Homo sapiens: one gene and its partners. The protein of the gene in region 1 purifies or fractionates together with the protein of each later gene. This does not show direct contact. Each region holds a gene or a part of one and is shown in the gene's direction. Other genes may lie near its edges.

Region 1 (4,986 bases):
GCTCCCCTGGAAGGAAGGTATTACCATTATCCCCACTTTACAAATGAGAAACTGAGACTCTAGACTAAAGTTAAGGAATATGCTGGAGGTTACACAACTAGTAGTGTAGGGCTGATATTTGAACCCATGTCTCCTCCTTAGCTCTGTGACCTAGGGCCAATCATGTATCCTCTCAGAGCTATAGTTTCACCTATAAAATGAGGCTTATTGTAGTACCTACTTTTTAGTGGGTTTTTGAGGACTAAATGATGAAATATATCCTTTTTACTAGACCTCACTGATTGCCCTCAAGAGCCAGGGCTTGGATGTAAAGGAATACCACTTAGTTGGCTTCTTCTGGGTAAATTCAGGCCTATGTGTAACTCTGAGAGTTCTAGGGCCCATTCTTTGAGCTATTAAGTAATAGCTGCTGACTCCTTGAAGGGCTTTGTGGCATTGAAGACTAATACCTTAAAAACTTTTAAGCCTGGGCTGGGCGCAGTGGCTCATGCCTGTAATCCCAGAACTTTGGGAGGCTGAGGTGGGCGGATCACAAGGTCAGGAGTTTGAGACCAGCCTGGCCAAGGTGGTGAAACCCTGTCTCTACTAAAAATACAAAAATTAGCCTGGCGTGGTGGCGGGTGTCTGTAGTCCCAGCTACTCAGGAGGCTGCGGCAGGAGAATCGCATGAACTCAGAAGGTGGAGGTTGCAGTGAGTTGAGATCGCAACACTGTACTCCAGCCTGGGTGACAGTGAGACTCCATCTCAAAAAAAAAAAACAAAAAAACTTTAAGCCTGAATAAGGGGAGGATGCAGTCAAAAGGCCAGAGTGTATAGGAGGCAGTGTCAGAGGCCCTGTGCAAAGAAAATTCTCAGCTACTACTGCAGAGCCAGATTTGAGGGTCACCGTTGGCATTTTTGTATTTATTATCTTCTTTTAGGATACAAGGTCACAACTGCTAGAGCTGTAACAGAGCTCAGTGCCAAGAATAATGACCCTTAATCCTCCGTATAGCCATCTGGGGAGGTATTAACCCCATTTTCTTGGAGATGGGGTGGAGAACAGGATCAGACCTTGCCCAGGGAGCTCTCCAGAGGCTGTTGAGGGCAGTGTTTGGATCAGGACTTTTGTACAATTTTGTCCTTATTCATGACCCCCCAAATTCTATAAAACTGCTTATCCTTGAACCTCTTAGGGGGCCTTCCTGAGAATGGGAGCTAGGCATTCATGGTCAGGGAGCTTCATAGTTGAGGCCTGAGTGTTTGGGTGCTGATGGCCTACCTGGTTCCCTTTTGAGTTACACATCTGGATATAACACTACTGTCACTGAGTTAGAAAGGAAACATTTCTAACTTGAATGGTTTAGTTTTCCTTGACCTTGCAGCTAGTAGTAGAGTTACAGGATGAAACTCCAGAGCCTTCTCTACAAGAGATATTTTGAATTGTGGCAGGATTTGTCAGGATGCAAGTTAAAGACTGCAGATGCTTTTAAATAGTGAGAGAGTATAGCATTATCAAAATATGCTCCCTTTTCTCTGTTTCCTTCCACTATCTTAAGGTAATTGTGAGGCCTAAGAGCAGACAGGAAAATTAGCTATGATCACTGGAAAACAAAGTTCTGAAAACATCCAGAAAAAATTTTCACAAAGCTCAAACAAGTGGCTGGGTGTGATGTCTCACACTGTTTTTTTTTGTTTTTTTTTTTTTGAGAGTCTCGCTGTGTCACCCAAGATGGAGTGCAGTGGTGCAATCTTGGCTCACTGCAGCCTCAGGCTCCTGGGTTCAAGCGATTCTCTTGCCTCAGCCTCCTGAGTAGCTAGGATTACAGGCGTGTGCCATCACGCCTGGCTAATTTTTGTATTTTTAGTAGAGACGGGGTTTTACCATGTTGGCCAGGCTGGTCTCCAACTCCTGACCTCCAGTGATCCTCCTGCCTTGGCCTCCCAAAGTGTTGGGATTACGGGGATGAGCCACCGTGCCTGGCCAGATGGTTCACACTTGTAACCCTAGCACTTTGGGAGGGTGAGATGGGAGGATTGTTTGAGGCCTGGACTTCAAGAACAGCCTGGGCAAAATGATGAGACCCCCATCTCTACAAAAAATAAAAATAAAAGTAGCCAGGCATGGTGATTTGCACCTGTAATCCTAGCTACTCAAGAGGCTGAGGCAGGAGGATCCCTTAAGCCTAGGAGTTCAAAGTTGCAGTAAACTGTGATAGTGCTACATTCCATTCCAGCCTGGGGAACAGAGCTAGACCCTGTCTCTTTTTTTTTTGAGACGGAGACGGAGTTTCGCTCCTGTCGCCCAGGCTGGAGTGCAATGGTGCAATCTCGGCTCACTGCAACCTCTGCCTCCCGGGTTCAAGTGATTCTCCTGCCTCAGCCTCCCGAGTAGCTGGGATAACGGGTATGCACCACCACGCCTGGCTAATTTTTTGTATTTAGTAGAGACAGGGTTTCACCATGTTGGTCAGGCTGGCCTCAAACTCCTGACCTCAGGTGATTCACCCACCTCGGCCTCCCAAAGTGCTGGGATTACAGGCGTGAGCCACCGCACCCAGGCGACCCTGTCTCTTAAAAGCTCAAACAGCAATACGGAGCCCACTGGGCAGGGGAGAAGACATCAAGGTGAGTTTTTATCTAAAGCTTCCCAGAAAGTAAAGCATTGCTTAGAAGCAGCTCTCTTCTGCAGAGAAAACCTCAAGCAGTCCTACATGGGATTATTTAAGCCAGGAGCCTCAAAGATGGCTAAGAAGTTTCCTGAAGATGCTTTGGTGATGAGTCTATCCTACCAGCGAAAGCTTTCCCAGAAACTGTCCTTGTACCAACTTAGTCCATGACCTTGAAATGGCACTCTTTAAATTTGTGTTTGAGATCAGCAGAGTCAAGGCAGCTTAACCCTAAGGAATGGTAAGAGACAAAGTTTCAGCAGCTTCCTGAAATTGTATCAATACTGATATTACAGGTGTGAGCCGCTGCTCCCTGGCCAGTAATTTTTTTTTTTTTTTTTTTTTTTTTTGAGACAATGTCTCACTCTGTCACCCAGGCTGAAGTGCAGTGGCATGATCTCGATCTTGGCTCACTGCAACCTCTGCCTCCTGAGTTCAAGTGATTCTCCTGCCTCAGCCTCCCCAGCAGCTGGGATTACAGGCGCCTGCCACCATGTCCGGCTAATTTTTGTATTTTTAATAGAGACAGGGTTTCACCACATTGGCCAGGCTGGTCTGGAACTCCTGACCTCAAGTGATCTGCCCGCCTTGGCCTCCCAAAGTGCTGGATTACAGGTGTGAGCCACCACACCCGGCCCAGTAATTATTATTTAGTGGCCAATGGCCTGGCCCCTGGAGTCAGACTGTATAGGTTGACTCTCTGTCTAAGAACTGTGTAGCTTTGGCAACTTCACTTTTCTGTGCCTCAGATCCTGCATCTGTAAGATGAGGATAACAATAGCACCTGTCTCATAGGATTATTATGAGGAGTCTGTGAGATGACACTTGTAAACTGTTAGAATGTTCAATAAATATTATTTAATAGGATCAGTGTCAGGCATTTTACATGCAAGCGCTTCTGTTCCTCCTCACCCTGCAGAGGTAGGTATTATCAGATTAGGAAACTAAGGTTTAGAAGTGTCAAGTCAGGGTCTGGCATGGTGACTCATGCCTATAATCCCAACACTTTGGGAGGCTGAGGTGGGCAGATCGCTTGAGCCCAGGAGTTCGAGACCAGCCTGGGCAGCATGGTGAAACCCCATCTCTACAAAAAAAAAAAAAAAAAATGCAAAAATTAGCCAGGTGTGTGTGGGTGGTGCATGCCCGTGGTCCCAACTACTCGGGAGGCTGATGAGATGGGAGGATCTCTTGGGCCCGGGAGGCAGAGGTTGCAGTGAGCTGAGATCATGCTACCACACTCCAGCCTGGGTGACAGAGCCAGACCCTGTCTCAAAACAAATAAAAATTTTTTTAAAAAAATTAAAAAGATGAAGAGACGTAAGAGGTATAGAAAAGAAAAAAAAATTTAAAAGAAATGTCAAGTCAGACAGAAAATAGGTGTCAGAACTGGGATTTGAACCTAAGATCTGTTAGGTCCACAGCTACACTCTTCATTTTATTATGCTCTTTCTTTCTTTTGTTTTGTTTTGTTTTTGAGACAGCGCCTCACTTTGTCACACGGGCTGGAGTGCAGAGGCACAATCATAGCTCAATATAGCCTCAAACTCCTGGGCTCAAGCAATTCTCCCTCCTCCCTCCTGCCTCAGCCTTCCTAGTAGCTAGGACTACAGGAGTGTGCCACCATGCCTGGCTAATTTTTAAAAAACTTTTTTATAGAGACAGGATCTTACTCTGTTGCCCAGACTGCTCTCGACCTCCCGGCCTTCAAGTGATCCTCCTGCCTCGGTCTCCCAAAGCACTGAGATTACAGGCATGAGCTACCACACCTGGCCTTATGTTATTTCCAATGACCTTTATGCATTGAAAGTGAAGTTGAGTCCTTGCTTCGTTGCATCTTTCATCTTTTTTGTAGGATTGCTCCAATAGAACCACTATAAATAGAGTGAAAGGAAACTTGCATACATCTTTGCATAATTCAGAATGTTGAAAGGGGGTCAGTTGTCACCCTGGTTGGGGGCACGTCTCTGCTATGGGAGGTAGCATGTCCAGAGGAAAGAGAATACAGATGTTTTAGGTTCCATCTCTGGTCTGCTGCTAACCAGTAGTGTCTACTTAAAATCTCAGCATAGTGTCATCGGAAGGGGTTTTGTAGCTTATCTCAGAGTCCACCTCTCATTTTACAAACGGCAGAATAGACTGAGAGAGCAAAATGCCTCACTCAGGGTCATACAGCCAGTTAAAGGCAGAGGCTGGCTTGGAGCACAAGACCCTAGATCTCCCAGTCCAGTGCTTCTTCCTCAGTACCATGTAGTATTCTGCTTCACTTCTCCCTTGTTAAATGGGGATTATTATCGTACATGAATATTCATAGCAGCATTATTCATAGCAGCGTTATAT
Region 2 (5,659 bases), about 140 Mb from region 1:
TAGAGTCTAGGTGGTGGGTATACTGGTGTTTGCTGTAAAATCTTTCAACTGTGCTCGAAAATTTTTATGATAAAATATTATGGAATAAACACTATAGGAATGACAAGGAAGATGCAGATTTGAGAAAAGTTTATGAAAGACATGGCATTCTTTTTTTTTTTTTAAGAGACAAGTCGATAGAGGAGTGCAATGGCATGATCACAGCTGCAACCTCGAACTCCTGGGCTCAAGTGATCCTCCTGCCTCAGCCTCTGGTGTAGCTGGGACTACAGGTGTGCACTACCATGCCCAGTTAATTTTTGTACTTTTTGTGGAGATGGGGGTCTCATTATGTTGCCCAGGCTGGTCTCAAACTCCTAGCCTCAAGTGATCCTCACTCTTCTGCCTCCCAAAATGTTGGGATTACAGGCATGAGCCACCCCACTGGCCTTTGGCATTCCTTTATCCTCCTCCTCTTCTCCTTAACTACCTAATATCCCCATGCTAACCCTTAGCTGTAGGTTCAACTTCCAAATTCCAATGGGCTATAAAGAGTTCTACAAAAGTCCATGATGACTAATAAATCTATCTAGTAGAGAAAAGACCTTTTGGAGAAGAGGCTAACTCTAGGACCACCTAAAACTCACCCACTCCATAGCTATTTGGTAAGGCACCCCTTTAGGAAACTTCACCCAAATGCCTGCTTCTGGGTACCAGGTAGTGGCCACTCTCCCCATCTTTGTCTCCTGTCTGAGCTGCTACCGAGTTTGATGTTAGATGGTGACATAAAATACAGTAATTCCTAGATATATGCGGAGGGACTGGTCCCAGGACAGCCTACATGTAACCAAATCCACACATGAAGTCCCACAGTCAGTCCTGAGGAAACTGCACAAATATTGTGTTTTCCATCTGCCCTTGGTTTAAAAAAAAAGCTGCATAAAAGTGAACCTCACAGTTTGAACCAGTGTTGTTCAAGTGTCAACTTTAATTTAAAAGTGAAAAAAGTTTGTTTTCTCTGGTATCCTTTTTTTTGTTTTGTTTTGTTTTTGTTTTTGTTTTTTGACACAGGCTCTGGCTCTGCTGACCAGGCTGGAGTGCAGTGGGGAGATCATGGCTCACTGCAGCCTCGATTTCCCTGGCTTGAGAGAAAATTATTTTTTTCAAAATAATCTTCAATTTAAGGTAATTTACTAAGTTTCAAAAGATAATGCTATTGACGTAAATTCTGTTTTAGATTGTAGGCCCCATCAGCTCATTGATACTAGTCCCAAGTTCACAGGAGAAGAGACTGGAAGTTACTAGGCTAGTCCTGCCTCTCTCAGGTGTGTCCCAGCAAAACTTTTCTTTCCAGTTTCAGCGCTTTAGAAACCTTTTCTCTTCAAACACTAATACAGGGCCTAGACTGTACCAGCACTGTTCTGAGAACTTTACATACACTAATTCATTTAATTCTCACAAAAATCCTGGGATGTAATTGCCATTATTATTCCCATTTAACAGATAAGAACACTGAAGCACAGAGAGATTAAGTAACTTGCTCAGGGACCTGGATGTGAATGCAGAAATCTGGCTCCAGAGGTGGAGTCTGAAACTGCCTTTCTAAGTGACTGATTGCCAATCTCTGGAAAACCGTTCAATTGAAGATATTAATGGATCAAAATGTCAGTATGTTTTCAGATACCCTAACTCCATAGGAAGCTCAGTGTATGGGATGAGATACTGTGGTTTAGAAGGGAATTGCTTTTCCAACGGAGGGCACCCTTCAGATAAGCCCCTCAAATTGCCCTTCACTAGAGAGTCGCACGAGGACAGGCCTGCTAAAAAGGATGGCGCTGGGGGGTTTCCAAGACAGGAAATATCTAAAGCCAGCGGCTGACATATTATCTTGGCGAACGGGAGAAGGGAAAAAGAACCCTCATTTTTTGGAAACACAAGTTTTTAGCCTGGATAATGGGTAAATGACATTAACTCTTCGTTCCACACTAATCTTTCAAGCTTGTTCAAATTTTGCTTCTCAAACCTGGGCCATTCCTTCTTATCTAATCTGCCTATTATTTCCTTCAAGCTTTTTATCCCTTCTGAAAATAGGTGGTAGCATACCAAATTAAAATACAGAACAGCCTGTTTCTTTCCCCCAGGGTCCACTAGGGCGCGTCGGAGAAAGGGTTAACCGGGCGGGTGGGAGGGAAGGTCGGGCTCACACCTTTCGCAGAGACCTCGGGCGGCGGCGGGGCCCGGGAGGGGCGGAGGCTGGGGCCAGACGCCTCGCCGCCTCCGCCTCGGCGAATAGCAGCGCGCTGCCCGCCCGGATTGGAGCAGCAGCATCACGCTGACCTCTGCCTGGGATGTAAACCGGACCAGCCGCTGCGGGCAAAGGAAGGCTCTTGGCTCCTTCGGGAAACCCAGCCCCGTCACCGGGCTCCGAGCGGCTCGCAGGCGAGCGACAGCGGCCTCAGCCCCGGCAGCGCCCAGCGGCGGCTGCGGAAAGCGGAGGGAGTCCGACGCGGGCGCGGGCGGGGAGCGTGCGTCCGTTCGCACAGGCAGCGGGAGGAGGGGCGGCGCGAACCATGGCCGGGGACAGCGAGCAGACCCTGCAGAACCACCAGCAGCCCAACGGCGGCGAGCCCTTCCTTATAGGCGTCAGCGGGGGAACAGCTAGCGGCAAGGTACGGCGGGGCCCGGAGCCGCGCTCCCTTCCCGGCTTCTGTCCCTGGGCGGCGCATGTGGCCGGCGGCCGCGGGCCGTGTCAGTTGCGGCAGCCACCGCGTGGCCCGCGCGCCTCCGCTCCCGGCCGCGCTCCAGCGCCGAGTGCGCCCCGCGCGGCCTGGGGGCGCTGCGGCGGGGGCAGGCGAAGACTCGGGCCTTGGGGGTTCCGGGGGTACGCGGCCACGATCGCAGGGCGGGAGTGCTCCTCCGGCTTTTCTCCCCCCGCGTTAATAACTCGTGGCCGGGGTCCTATGGGGGAAGGGCAGGGAAGCGGATGCTTATTGTTTTGCAACTCCAGTGTCGGGGGAGAGGGCTTTCCGCAGGATCCCCCACTAACCCCCGATGGACTCCCTCAAGCCCCGGTCTGGCACAGACGTGCTCGCCCCGCGGCGCAGCCTGGTGCCGAGGGCGGAGCGAGCCGGGAAGCGCGGCCGAGAGGGCGAGGGTGGCGGGAACGCGCGAGGCGGCATCCCGGGGAAGGGGAGCCCAGTGTGGGGCTGCACGCAAGGGCTGGGGATTACAGGGGTTTCCGGGTAAAAGTCTGAGAGCCAAATAGGTGCCGTGACATCAATGAAACGATAATAGTAGGGGCTTCTGTTTTTTAAGGTTATAAGAGGAAACGTGGTCGGCTTCAATGAGAAAGTTGTACTGGCTCCAAGCTCTTCGGTGTCCAGGACGTACGCGTCTTGGATCCACGGAAGGGGGTCATCGTATGGGTGTCTGACCCTCTTAGGAGCCTGTTTCCTTTGTTTTATCCGCAAGGCAAGGAGAGACAAGGGAAATGACTTCCTAGCTTTACCCGGGGTTTTTTCTGCAGGTGGAGAAGGGTGGAGTCCTCCCAGATGGTTCTTTCTTTGCTCCCCTAACAGCCTTTAAGATGTGGCTACTTGTTTTTCCCACCGTTTAACACCCTCCAACTTCATTTGGAGCACGGGTTCCTCAAGGGATCCTGAGAGCTGGGTGCTGGGTGCTGGTTTGGAGAGGCAGGATGATGCTTCTCCCGGCTGGGGAGAGCAGAGCAGGAAGGCTGGTTGGCGCCATGAGGAAAGAGCCACGAGGTTTTAGCTCCCGAACCGACTCGTCAGTAGCCCCTCCTCCATGTTGGTTTTACATTTTTCCCTCCTGGTCTGGACTACTTTAGCGCAAGGAGCCCAGCCAGACACGGCGGCTGGCGCTGCTGGACTTCTTTATTGATGAAGTTGATCTCGTCCGTAGCTCCCGGGGTTAGGAATCGGCCTGCTTTAGGTCCTGAAGTTTCTGTTCTGTGTGCTCCCTGGTTGAAGGCTTTTAAAAAAATTTGTAATTTTTGAGTATGTTCTTTACTATGACTTATACTAGTAATTCAAAGCAAAACCAGAATGCTAGCCCTTCAGGAAGCTTTACCTGTTCTTTTAGAATTATTCTTGCTCTTCTGGCATATTCCTGTTGGATTGGGAGCATTTTTTGTTGTTGTTGTTCATGGCTGTTTTCCCAGCCCTCCTAGCACAATGCCTGCCTGGCATGTAGTGGGGTCCAAATTTTAAGCTGAAGTCCAGTCCTCCTAAAGTGGGGAGGAGGCTTAAACTTGCATATGAGCTTTTAGAAACAAAATGATCTTGGTAATCATCTGAATAATTTAGTTACCACGAGGGTGAAAACTGCGACCCTAAAAGGTGAATAACTCTGTTATTGTTCTTCTTGTGTGTTTCTCAGTCGTCACCTGTTCTAACTTGATAATCAAGCTTTTGGTGTTACTTGGGTAAAGTGAGGGATGGGATAGTGGTGAGCCAATGTGGGAGTAGCTAATTCTCTGCTATTTTTATCCAGGAGGAAGAGTGTAGAAACTCTCAAGAAAGGAAGGGTCCGTTTTTCTGCAGTTTTCAAAGCATGTTGTACATTTTTATTTATTAATTTAATTTTTGAGACAAGGTCTCGCATTTCCACCTAGCCCAGAGTAAGTGGCACTGTCACAGCTCACTGCAGCCTCAGCCTCAACCTGGAGTAACTGGGAGTACAGGCTGGCACTATCATGACTGGCTAATTTTTTTGTTTGTTTGATTTGTTTTGTTTTTGAGACAGGGTCTCACTCTTTTGCCCAGGCTGGAGTGCCGTGGTGAGATCTTGGCTTACTGTACCCTCCACCTGTTGGGCTCAAGTGATCCTCCCACTTCAGCCTCCAGAGTAGCTGAGACTACAGGCTTGCACCATCATGCCCGACTAATTTTTTTTTTTTTGTAGAGAAGGGGTTTTGCCATGTTGCCAGGCTGATCTCAAATGCCTAGACTTAAGTGATCCGCCCGCCTCTGCCTCCCAAAGTGCTGGGATTACAGGTGTGAGCCACTACCTGGGCTGGCTTTTTAATCTTTATTTTTTTTATTATTTTTTTTTTTTGAGACAGAGTCTTGCTCTGTTGCCCAGGCTGGAGTGCAGTGGCATGATCTCGGCTCACTGCAAGCTCCGCCTCCCGGGTTCATGCCATTCTTCTGCCTCAGCCTCCCAAGTAGCTGGGACTACAGGTGCCCGCCACCACGCCTGGCCAATGTTTTTGTATTTTCAGTAAACACGGAGTTTCACTGTGTTAGCCAGGATGGTCTCAATCTCCTGACCTTGTGATCCGCCCGCCTCGGCCTCCCAAAGTGCTGGGATTACAGGTGTGCGCCACCACGCCGGCAATCTTTATTTTTTGTAGAGACTAGGTCACCATGTTGCCCAAGCTTGTTTGTACATTTTTGACATACGAATGATTGATAGTTTGTCATCCTTTAAGATTATTGATATTTTTGTTATTAAAAAAGTCCAAGACTGGGCCTGGTGGCTCACACCTGTAATCCTAGCATTTTGGGAGGCAGAGACAGGAGGATTGCTTGAGCCCGGGAGTTTGAGGCCAGCCTGGGCAACATAGTGAGACCCCATCTGTATAAAATGAAAATTGTGGTGGGTCGAGAAAGTTATTTTGACCTATGTTTAAAACCAGATTCTCAGCTTGGGCAAC
Region 3 (4,986 bases), about 92 Mb from region 1:
TTGGAGAACATTTTAAAGGCGCTGAAAACTCTTGGCAGGAGAGGAGGAGTGTTTGTTGGCTAACTTGACTGCTGGGCATTTTTGGACTGTTTGGGAGGGCTCAGCTTTCTTGTCTGTCTTTGCAACACATTTGGTTCAGAATGCCAATTAATCTCCTTGGTCAGCCCACTGAAGGGTCCTCATTTCTACACTATGCCTTTTTATTCTGCATGAAGAGGTGTCTGGCATAGTGTCTCCTGCCCTCCCCCACTGAAGTCTCTTTAATGCTGAAGGAAGCTTCGGCAGCGTTGCTAGAACCGGGCCTGGCCTTGGTTCCCACTGCCTTGTATTCTGGGCAGGCGGTCTCCTCTCACTCACCCCCTGGTCAGGAAGTACAATCATTCCTCCCTGCCCTTTCAGTGGTGCTTTTCAGACTTGGAGCAAGTCATAGTTCAGTTTAAGGGGTCATGACGAGCATTTTAAAAAACAAAGTAGGAAATATCAGACAGCAATGCAGATAGATAGTAAGGTTGTAAGTATTGTTTCATGAATTTTGTTTCATTTATGTTGTGTAGTTGTATGTGTGTGGCATGTGAGTATGAAATTACAACTTAAAAATGTGTTTCTTGGCCGGGCGCGGTGGCTCACGCCTGTAATCCCAACACTTTGGGAGGGGCCAAAGGAGGCAGATCATTTGAACTGAGGAGGTTGAGACCAGACTGGGCAACATGGCAAAACCCTGTCTCTACAAAAAATACGAACATTAGCTAAGCATCTTGCACAAGCCTGTAGTCTCAGCTACTGGGGGATGGGGTGGAGGGCTGAGGCCCTGGTTGCTGTCACTCTTCCCAACCTGGTGCTCTAGTGGGAGGATCGCTTGAGCCTAGGAGTTTGAGGCTGCAGTAAGCCATGATCTCGCCACTGCAATCCAGCCTGGGCAACAGAGCTAGACCCTGTCCCACCCCTCCACCAACAAAGATGTGTTTCTTACAATGAACCTCAGTCAAAAAAGTTTGGAAAACGTTGGCTTAAAATAATAAAGCATCTTGTTTGGAACTCACATCTTAAATATACCTAATATGCCGGAAAATATTTAAATAATATTACCATGTATCAGTGGCTTTTAAACTTTGACTGTGACCCACAATAAGAAATTTGTTTTATGTCATAACTTAAACACTCATACATATGTGTACACACAGACACACACAAATTTTATGAAATAATACTTACTCTTTTTACATATGATGCATTCTGGTATTTTCTTCTGTTTCATTAAGTAGCATTGCTGGTCAGGACCACTAAACTAAACACTGGTAATGGTATTTAATTTACTGAAGCACATCCATACCTTCATATCAGTACTTGAAGAAAGATTAAGAAGGGAATAAATCTTTCCATGCCAAATTTCTTTTCAAATTTCTTTAAAATAGGAAGTTCCCAGCCTTTACACAAGGATTTAGTTTGCAAAAGTTAAATAACCATCAAATTAATCAGGATCACACATCTTGTGCAAAACAGGGTAGACCTGCCTTCCCTATAGCTGGGGAACATGACCTGGATAGTTTCATTGTCTTGCCCTATGATTTAAGTCAGAGGCATGGCAATGCTAGAATTACCTCCTAGGCCAAGCTTGTCCCCTTGGGAAAGGAAGCATGTGTGAACCTGAGGAATGGCAATGGATTCCCATTGCTGAGTTAGCAGTTTGTCTCGAACAGCCATAAATCAAGCAGTTTTCTAGCTGAACAGCAGCTAAGGACAGGGGAGCGGGAGGACTTGTAGGAAGTGTGGGAAGTGCCTGTTCCCGCCACAGTGCAGACACAGAAGCCACACGCAGAGGGCAGTGAACATCAGAATTTGGTGCTGTGTAGAGAGAGACTTGCTTCCTCACCCAAGGAATGACAAAGAGAGGGGAGGATCTCTGGACACTGGAGAAGTTTTAATCGCAAACTGCAGAGGATGTGAGCAGATGGGTGCATTTGGTTAGGGCTGTGGTTTCCATAAGTAGAGGACAGGAGCAGACAGCTTGGGGCAAAGTCTTTGAAGGGGGTGCGTTGTGGCGTGAGGAGGGAAGGGGCTTGGGTGCAGGGGCTTTGAGGGTCCAGCAGGAGGTAGGTTGGATTCAGGCTGTCTGTGAATATGTGCTGATTGAATGAGTGGATAGAGTGGGTAGTTGAGGTTGTAAGAGGCCTTGGAAGCTCATTAACTCTGACTGATGTGGGATGTCTGGTTCTAATGTGGGACCAAGGTCTCCTGAGTGACAGTTTCTGCCCTTGGGAGAGGTGAGACCTGATGCTCATCTGTAGGAGTCTGACTGGGGACTCTTAGTTTCCCTGGCACCAAAGAAGGCTGGTTTGAGGGAAAAGTGAAGAGACTACAGCATAAATCTTTACAAGGGAGATCCATCCAGAGAGTCCATGCTCATGAAAGAAACAATAGTGCTGTTTCTGTGCTTGTTCAGGGGCTACAAGAATGGGTGGACTTTGGGGAGTCTGCATGCTCTCCAGCTAGTGTTGCCTGTGGGGAGCAGGTTTGCAAGGTTTGGGGAGCATTTTGGCAGCTTTGGAGAGAACATTGAAGAAGGATGGACCCTTAAGGCCCAAGGGAGTGATTGGTAGAGCCTCTGGAGCAGGACTGGGCCTGAGATGTGGGCTCTGGAACTTGATGCTAGAGAGACAAGGTGATAAGATGATGACTCTGGGTGGTCCCTTCTCCTCTTGCTCCATGCCTGCTTCTTGTCAGTTGAACTTTGACTTTTGGTCCTGAGCTGACCACTTGAAAGGAGGTTGTGTTTCCTCAGTGTGTTACCAATTTTCTAAGGTGTCAGTGCTGGCTGCAAAGAAATGACCACTAAAAATGTGCTTACCCACCCACTGCCCAGTTGCCCTCCAAAAAGGTCATGCAGTGTACACTCCTGTTTCCCTCCATGCTCACCAATGCTGAATATTATTCATTTTCTTTCTGCCAAAATGATGCCCAAAAATATCATATTTAAAAATCTATATTTCCTTGATATCTAGCGTTGAAGAGTCTATAAACTAGTGAAACTAGTGACCACTTTGTAGTTCTTCTGTGCATTGCCTATTTATATATTTATCTATTTTTTATTGTGCTCTTTATCCTTTAAAAAAGTGGATTTGTGGTGCATGCCTATAATCCCAGCTACTCGGGAGGCTGAAGCAGGAGAATCGCTTGAACCCGGGAGGCGGAGGTTGCAGTGAGCCAAGATCGCGCCATTGCACTCCAGCCTGGGCAATAAGAGTGAAACTCTGTCTCAAAAAAAAAAAAAAAAAAAAAAAAAAAAAGTTGATTTGTAGGAATTCTATCACTTTTGGTGATGAATCCTTGTTCTGTTACATATGGTGAAAGGAGTTTTCTCCACATATCAGGACCACTACTTGCTTTTGTTTATGGGATCTTTTTCCATGCAGAAGTTTAAAATTTGAATGTAACTGGATTTGTCAATATTTTCTTCCAGAGTTTCTAAGATTTGTGCCTTGCTTATGAAAGGTTTTCCCAATCCGAGTCATAAAAATATCCCCTGACATTTTCTTTTAATGCTTATATTTTTAAAAATTCTTTAATTCATCTGGATTTTTAAAAATCTGAAGTGAGGTAGCAATCTATTATTTTTCTTCTTGAATTTTCATAACATTATTTCTTGTTTAGTTCTTCCTTTCCGCATCAATTTGAGTTCTGCTTTTTATTTTCTAAATTCTCACATATTCTGTTTGTCTAGTGTCTATTTAGTTCTGTTGACTGATTTGTCAATTTCTGAACGTTTTTCCTGCTTTTTTTCAACTTCTTTTAATAAGATTTTTGAAAATCCTTGAGCACTCTTAGAAGTAGACCTTATGCCTCCTTATCACAGTCAAAGGAAGGGATTTCTGATGAGCAATTTTCAGGCATGTGAAGTGTTAAAGTTATTTGGGAAAGAGGGTGAAGGTGTGAGGATGGGGGACTGATGAGGGTGGTTTCTACCGGCCTCTCATCACTGAATTCATTTATTCAATGGAAGTGTATAAAACACTTCATTGTGAAGTATCAACTGTGAGCTTGCCTACAGGCCACAGGCAACTTGCTCTTCTCGACAGAGGCATTTGTGCCTATTTCTATTATCCCCCAGTAGGCAGGCTGGCTGGGAGGAGCAGGTCACCAGAAGATCCAGGGACCTTTGTTAGGGAGCTTCTGCCATCTTGGAGAAGCCACAGGATTTCTGGCAATGTCTCTCCTGGTTTAGGTGTCTAAATGCTGTATTTGGAAGGTAGTTGGAACTCAACAGATTTGGACTTGATTCCAGCTTCTGCCATATCCTAGCTATGTGACTTCAGCAAGTTCTCTAAATTCTTTAAGTGTCAGTTTGCTTGTCTGTACTATAGGGATAATTGTAATATCTGTCTTAGGATTGTTGTGAAGCACAGTGCTGGATGTAAAGTACTTGCTCAAAAAATGGTAGCTATTGTTACTAGTAAATCTCTCCAAGGGATTTTACAGTTTGGTTTTTGCACCTAACTGGCCATGGCCTTGGCTCTGGCCCTATCTTCTTGACATCTTGGCAGGTCTACCAACTCTTCTTCAGTTACAGTCTCAGAGTTAGCCAGTGGCAATGACTTTCCAGTTCTTGGCTGGTTTTTGATCTGTAAGAGTGACCTTGGGCAGGTTACCTCTCAAAGCCTCTGTTTCTTTATCTGGAAACTGGGGATGATTATACCCCTTCTCCTTGGAGTTGTGAAGAGAATAATGTAAAGCAACTGGTGTAATGCCTAGTACCCAGCAGGTGCTCAATAAATGGTTTATGTGCTGGTGAGGCTGGTACTATGGATATATGGTATAGAGTAGATAAAGTTTTAATATAAAATCCCTGCATTAGGCATAGAAAATATAACTAAGGAGACCAAAACTGCAGGTCTAAGAGAGGACAACTAGATATGAAACATATTATATTGGTGATCACAACAAAAATGGTGGGGTGTAGGGAGAGTGACAGTTCAGGGTTGTTGGCAAATG
Region 4 (4,986 bases), on another chromosome or scaffold:
ACATAAAGGTGCTCATGCATCACAGGACTTTCCTGTAGGTGCTGATGTCTATACAAGCACTTTGCTGTTATAAAGGACTGCTGAGCTGTTGAAGTCAGTAACTCTTTCTGTCTTCCTGTATGTAAAATAAAACCCAGAATCCTTGTCCTGTTATTGCAGGTTTAAGGAGTTCATGAGTAAACATGTTCACTTAATGTGTTACCGGATCTGCGTGCGAGCGCTGACAGCCATCATCACCTACCATGACAGGTGAGAGCGCTTTGTATTGATAGGAAGGGAGATGGCGCTGCAGGAAACACCACCCACCTATACTTAGCCAAATGGGAAGACACTTCTGAGCTTTTAGTTAGAGCAGATGAAGCATGTGAGGTGAGAGGTGTGTTACATGAACTGTTTCACACTAATTTTGGTTGCTTTGCATACATTTTAAACCCAGGGAAAACAGACCAAGAAATGGTGGCATCTGTGTGGCCAATCATACCTCACCGATCGATGTGATCATCTTGGCCAGCGATGGCTATTATGCCATGGTAAGAGCTCTTTCCGGTGCGTTCTTGAGGCAAGACTTCCTGCTTTAGAGTGGTCAGGGCTAGGAGGCTCCTGGACCCTTCACATAAACACATTTATGCGTGGGCCAGGCCCCCACCTTACTGTCACTGTGGGGGCTCTGTGGGACTGTGATAGGAGATACCCTGGGCAGAGTGATTGGTGAGTGTGGCTGGAGAGGATGCCAAGGGCAGTCAGGCAGACCAGCAGGGGCAGAGGGAGTTGCTGGCAAGGACTGTGTCCAGGGCATCTGAGAATCTGCCCAGGGAGGGGCAGTTTTACACAGGGAATTGCGCTACTTTAGTATTTTAGTATTTTGTCTTAGGGGTTTCAGTTATGTTTTTAATTACCTATTTCTAGTATTACTGATTAAAAGGAGAAGTTTAAGATTTGGGGAGTCTTGGTAGTGGTTTCTTGGCAGTGAGCAACCTTCAGCCGGCAAGCGTTAGAAGTGAGAAGTTGGACTGCTTATTTTGTGAGATGTGGTTCTTCCTAGAGTGGGGAGATTCGTGTGAAGATGGCTTCACTACTAATGAGTCCTGTGCCTGCGCTTAGGTGGGTCAAGTGCACGGGGGACTCATGGGTGTGATTCAGAGAGCCATGGTGAAGGCCTGCCCACACGTCTGGTTTGAGCGCTCGGAAGTGAAGGATCGCCACCTGGTGGCTAAGAGGTAATGGACAGAACACTGCTGTTCTGCTTGGCCAGTTAGAATGCTGAAAAGGTTTCAGGGTAGTTATCCCTCCACAGTGCAGTTACGTGCCTTCTATCATAAGCCTATACTGCTTTCATAATAATTTTTTCCTAAAACATGAAATTTTAAAAGTGGCCGGGTGTGGTGGCTCATGCCTGTAATCCCAGCAGTTTGGGAGGCCGAGGTGGGCGGATCACTTGAGGTCAGGAGTTTGAGACTAGCCTGACCAACATGGTGAAAATACAAAATACTAAAAATGCAAAAATTATTGACGGGCATCTGTAATCCCAGCTACTAGGGAGACTGAGGCAGGAGAATAGTTTGAACCAGGGTGACAGAGGTTGCAGTGAGCTGAGATCGCGCCATTGCATTCCAGCCTGGGCGATAGAATGAGACTCTGTCTTAAAAAAAAAAGTATAGAAACCCTAGTATTATTTACCAAGTTAATAATGTTTCTTAACCTTTTTTTAATTCATTGTACCCATCATAATAAACAAAATACGAATTTTTACTGCTATTTGAAACCTCAAAATGAATTCATTTATCACAAATAAAAAGAAACCTAAGGCAGTGGAACAAAGTACTGCCCTGTTTTCAAACTTTAAGAAGGTGAATCTGCTGTAAGTAATGCAAAGAGATTTGCAGCAGACAGAGACATCAAGACAGTTGAGACCAAGCCACACATGGTGGCTCAGGCCTGTAATCCCAGTGCTTTGAGAGCCCGGGAGTTCGAGACCAGCCTGGGCAACATAGGAAGACCCCCATCTCTACAAAAAATTTAAAAATTAGCTGAGCGTGGTGGTACGCTTCTGTAGTCCCAGCTACTTGGGAGGCTGACGTGGGAGGATCGCTTGAGCCAGGGAGGGTGAGACTTCAGTGAGCTATGATTGCACCACCGCATTCCAGCCTGGGCAACACAGGGAGACCCTGTCTCAAAAAATAACACATAAGAAAAGACAGTTGAGATTATCTTCCATAGAGACAGATGAACTCTCCCCTAACTCCCTTTGCTACATCTCAGGGACAGAGCATCGAGCCAGCAGGGCTGGGCCCAGCCTCACAACTGTTACATAGTCTAGTGACACAGGTTTATTGAGGGGGCCATGCCCAGGCCTTGTGGCAGGTGTCTCTTTCAGGTGGCCCCCAGGTTGAGTGGCATCATTGGTGCTCCGATGTTCGCACAGAATTGAACAGTTCTGTGAATTAAATGGTAACCTGATTTTTCTCTATCCATATACATTTTTTCTTGATGAGCATTAGATTATGGGTTTAAAAGGATACAGTTATGCTTGTTAACTTTTTATAATCGAAACTAGTGTCACAAATAAATAGGTTATTTATAAACATATTTTGACGATGTGTATAAGGTTGTCTGACCCTTTATTTTATTTTCTTCTTTGAAAGACTGACTGAACATGTGCAAGATAAAAGCAAGCTGCCTATCCTCATCTTCCCAGAAGGTAAGAAGGGGTTGGTTGCCACGAAGGGCTTCTGTGGGGAGTGCAGGAGTGTGATGCTGATGTTTCCTGGGAACCAAGGCCCTCAGCCCTTGTTGGGGTTATCTGTTTTCACTGAATAATGTTAGGTCCCCTTTAGGTTGGAAGTAGGACTAAAAACTCAGGTAAGTTCAGAATTTGAACTAAGAATGCCATAGTGTGAACTCCCCAAATGCAGGAATTTCTTCTGTAATGTTTCAGCTCCTCACAGAGCTCATGGTGTCCTCCTAAGGCCACTGCGCGTCTCTGCTTTATCTAGGCTGTGTGTATGAATCAGGGAAAGTGGTCCTGTAGAAAGAGAATCGGAGGCACCATCTTGCCTGTCTCTGTTAAGTGTTTGTTTTTAAGTTAGGGAGATGACAGATGTATCTTACTGGAGGAACCATTAGAAGAATTTTGACTATTATACTTAGTCTTTAAGAAACGCCTAATATCTGGGGTAAAGGGCCAACAGAAATAGCATTTTATTGTCTCCTGCATTTTAGGAACCTGCATCAATAATACATCGGTGATGATGTTCAAAAAGGGAAGTTTTGAAATTGGAGCCACAGTTTACCCTGTTGCTATCAAGGTATAAGACCTCCGATGGTACACACTGTCATTACTGGAGCTGCTGTGAGTGGGGTGCAGCAGGAGGAGGTAGAGGAAGGAGCTGGGGTCACCAGTCTGTGGTCGATGCCCTCAGCAGAGTGGCGTGGGGCTGGGTTGACGTGGGTCAAGTGCTGCCGGAGGAGGATGGTGAGTGCTCAGCACCCCTTAGAAGGGCCTGGGGAGTGTGGAATGGGGGACAGCCAGATTCCCGCCTGCATGCTGCTGCCGCCACCATTCGGGAAATGGCAAGCCCTTCACTTATTACCTTGCTTCATAAACCTAGCTGGAATGTAGGCCCCTCCACATGGAAAGCTGGCTGATTGCAGGGCACAGTGGTGTGGTTTTAAGCTGGATTTTTGCATTTTGGGGGAGCCATGAGGATTGGGGGGGGGGTCATTACTCCAGCCCAGTGGGAGAAACAGCTTCACTGCTTTTAGTTGTGTCATCTTTTAGACCTACAACAGCTCCTAACAATGAGATGGACCCTGGGAGTTTATCTAGTCTACGTCGACCCTTTAGGAACTGCTCCTCTAACCCTTCAGACACCCAGAGCTATAGGATGTGATTAGCTAGTCATCTGCACATTGTTCCTCCCCGCTCTTACCCTCTTCACATCCACCAGGCCTCACATCATGACACCTACAAAACACAGGCCATCCTCAGTGTGGTTAAAGTATTTAGGCTGCAGCCTGAGAGCTCGATAAAATGGTGAGCAGATATGAGTCAGGCTCACACTTAGAATTTCTTTTGTAGGGGACTGGGTTGTCTGCAGAGCATTCTGTAGAGTTGGTTCTGACTTTCTTTTCACCTTGCCAGTGCCACTGGAGAGGTGTTGCTCCTGGTGAGGCCGATGCTCACCAGCCACTCACTGTTTATCATTTAGGCAGAGGACCAGGCCAGGGATGGCAGATGAATATTGCCTGCAGGGGACTCTGATTGACAGGCTAGGACTCACCAGAGCCTGAGGATGCTGTGTCTGGAAACAGCAGGAAAGAGGAACATAGTCTGTTAGCAGAGTCTGCCTTGGGTGTGGGAGTGGGGACTGGCATCTGCATCCTGCATTCTGGCAAAACGAGGACAGGTGCTTTGCAGTGTGACCGTGATGCTGGATGGAAGCCCTTACTGCTGCCTCCAGAACAGCAGCTCTTGAACTTAGGCTGCATCAGCATTGCCTGCAGGGATTGTTTAAATGCAGATTGCTGGGCCCCACACCCAGGGTTTCTGAACTTCCTATTCTTTTTCTTTTGAGGCAGGGTCTCAGTCTGTCACCCAGGCTGGAGTGCAGTGGCACAATCATGACTCATGCAACCTTGACCTCCCACATTTAGGTGATTCTTGTGTCTCAGCCTCCCAAGTAGCTGGGATTACAGGTGCACACCACCACACCTGGCTAATTTTTTAATTTTTGTAGAGACGGAGTTTCCCCGCGTTGCTCAGACTGATCTAGAACTCCTGGACTCAAGTGATCCGCCTGCCTTGGCCTCTCAAAGTGCTGGGATTATAGGCCTGAGCCACCCCGCTGGGCCTTCTGATTTTCCATTCTAACATGTTCTGGGTGGCATTGATGGTGCCAGTTGGGACCACACTGTGGCGGCCACAGTTCTGAAGCAGTGGCTCTTAGCTGCTGTCAGAACACGAACCCTGAGGAGTTTCCGCTCCTC

The links. Proteins that work in one complex are often made in the same cells at the same time.
Region 2: the proteins of WDTC1 (region 1) and UCK2 purify together in Homo sapiens (affinity purification with mass spectrometry; one large-scale study listed by BioGRID and IntAct). This does not show direct contact.
Region 3: the proteins of WDTC1 (region 1) and PHGDH purify together in Homo sapiens (affinity purification with mass spectrometry; one large-scale study listed by BioGRID and IntAct). This does not show direct contact.
Region 4: the proteins of WDTC1 (region 1) and GPAT4 purify together in Homo sapiens (co-immunoprecipitation; one large-scale study listed by IntAct). This does not show direct contact.

What each region holds. Positions count from the first base shown.
Region 1 is NC_000001.11:27,240,226-27,245,211, forward strand, and holds part of WDTC1 (WD and tetratricopeptide repeats protein 1), read left to right. Parts: intron 1-4,966; exon of another isoform or gene 4,967-4,986. UniProt on the Homo sapiens protein: May function as a substrate receptor for CUL4-DDB1 E3 ubiquitin-protein ligase complex.
Region 2 is NC_000001.11:165,825,285-165,830,943, forward strand, and holds the start of UCK2 (uridine-cytidine kinase 2), read left to right. Parts: upstream 1-2,329; 5' UTR 2,330-2,549; coding exon 2,550-2,648; intron 2,649-5,659. UniProt on the Homo sapiens protein: Phosphorylates uridine and cytidine to uridine monophosphate and cytidine monophosphate. Does not phosphorylate deoxyribonucleosides or purine ribonucleosides. Can use ATP or GTP as a phosphate donor.
Region 3 is NC_000001.11:119,713,978-119,718,963, forward strand, and holds part of PHGDH (D-3-phosphoglycerate dehydrogenase), read left to right. Parts: intron 1-4,986. UniProt on the Homo sapiens protein: Catalyzes the reversible oxidation of 3-phospho-D-glycerate to 3-phosphonooxypyruvate, the first step of the phosphorylated L-serine biosynthesis pathway.
Region 4 is NC_000008.11:41,611,744-41,616,729, forward strand, and holds part of GPAT4 (glycerol-3-phosphate acyltransferase 4 isoform 1 precursor), read left to right. Parts: intron 1-159; coding exon 160-249; intron 250-436; coding exon 437-530; intron 531-1,101; coding exon 1,102-1,217; intron 1,218-2,642; coding exon 2,643-2,698; intron 2,699-3,219; coding exon 3,220-3,305; intron 3,306-4,986. UniProt on the Homo sapiens protein: Converts glycerol-3-phosphate to 1-acyl-sn-glycerol-3-phosphate (lysophosphatidic acid or LPA) by incorporating an acyl moiety at the sn-1 position of the glycerol backbone. Active against both saturated and unsaturated long-chain fatty acyl-CoAs.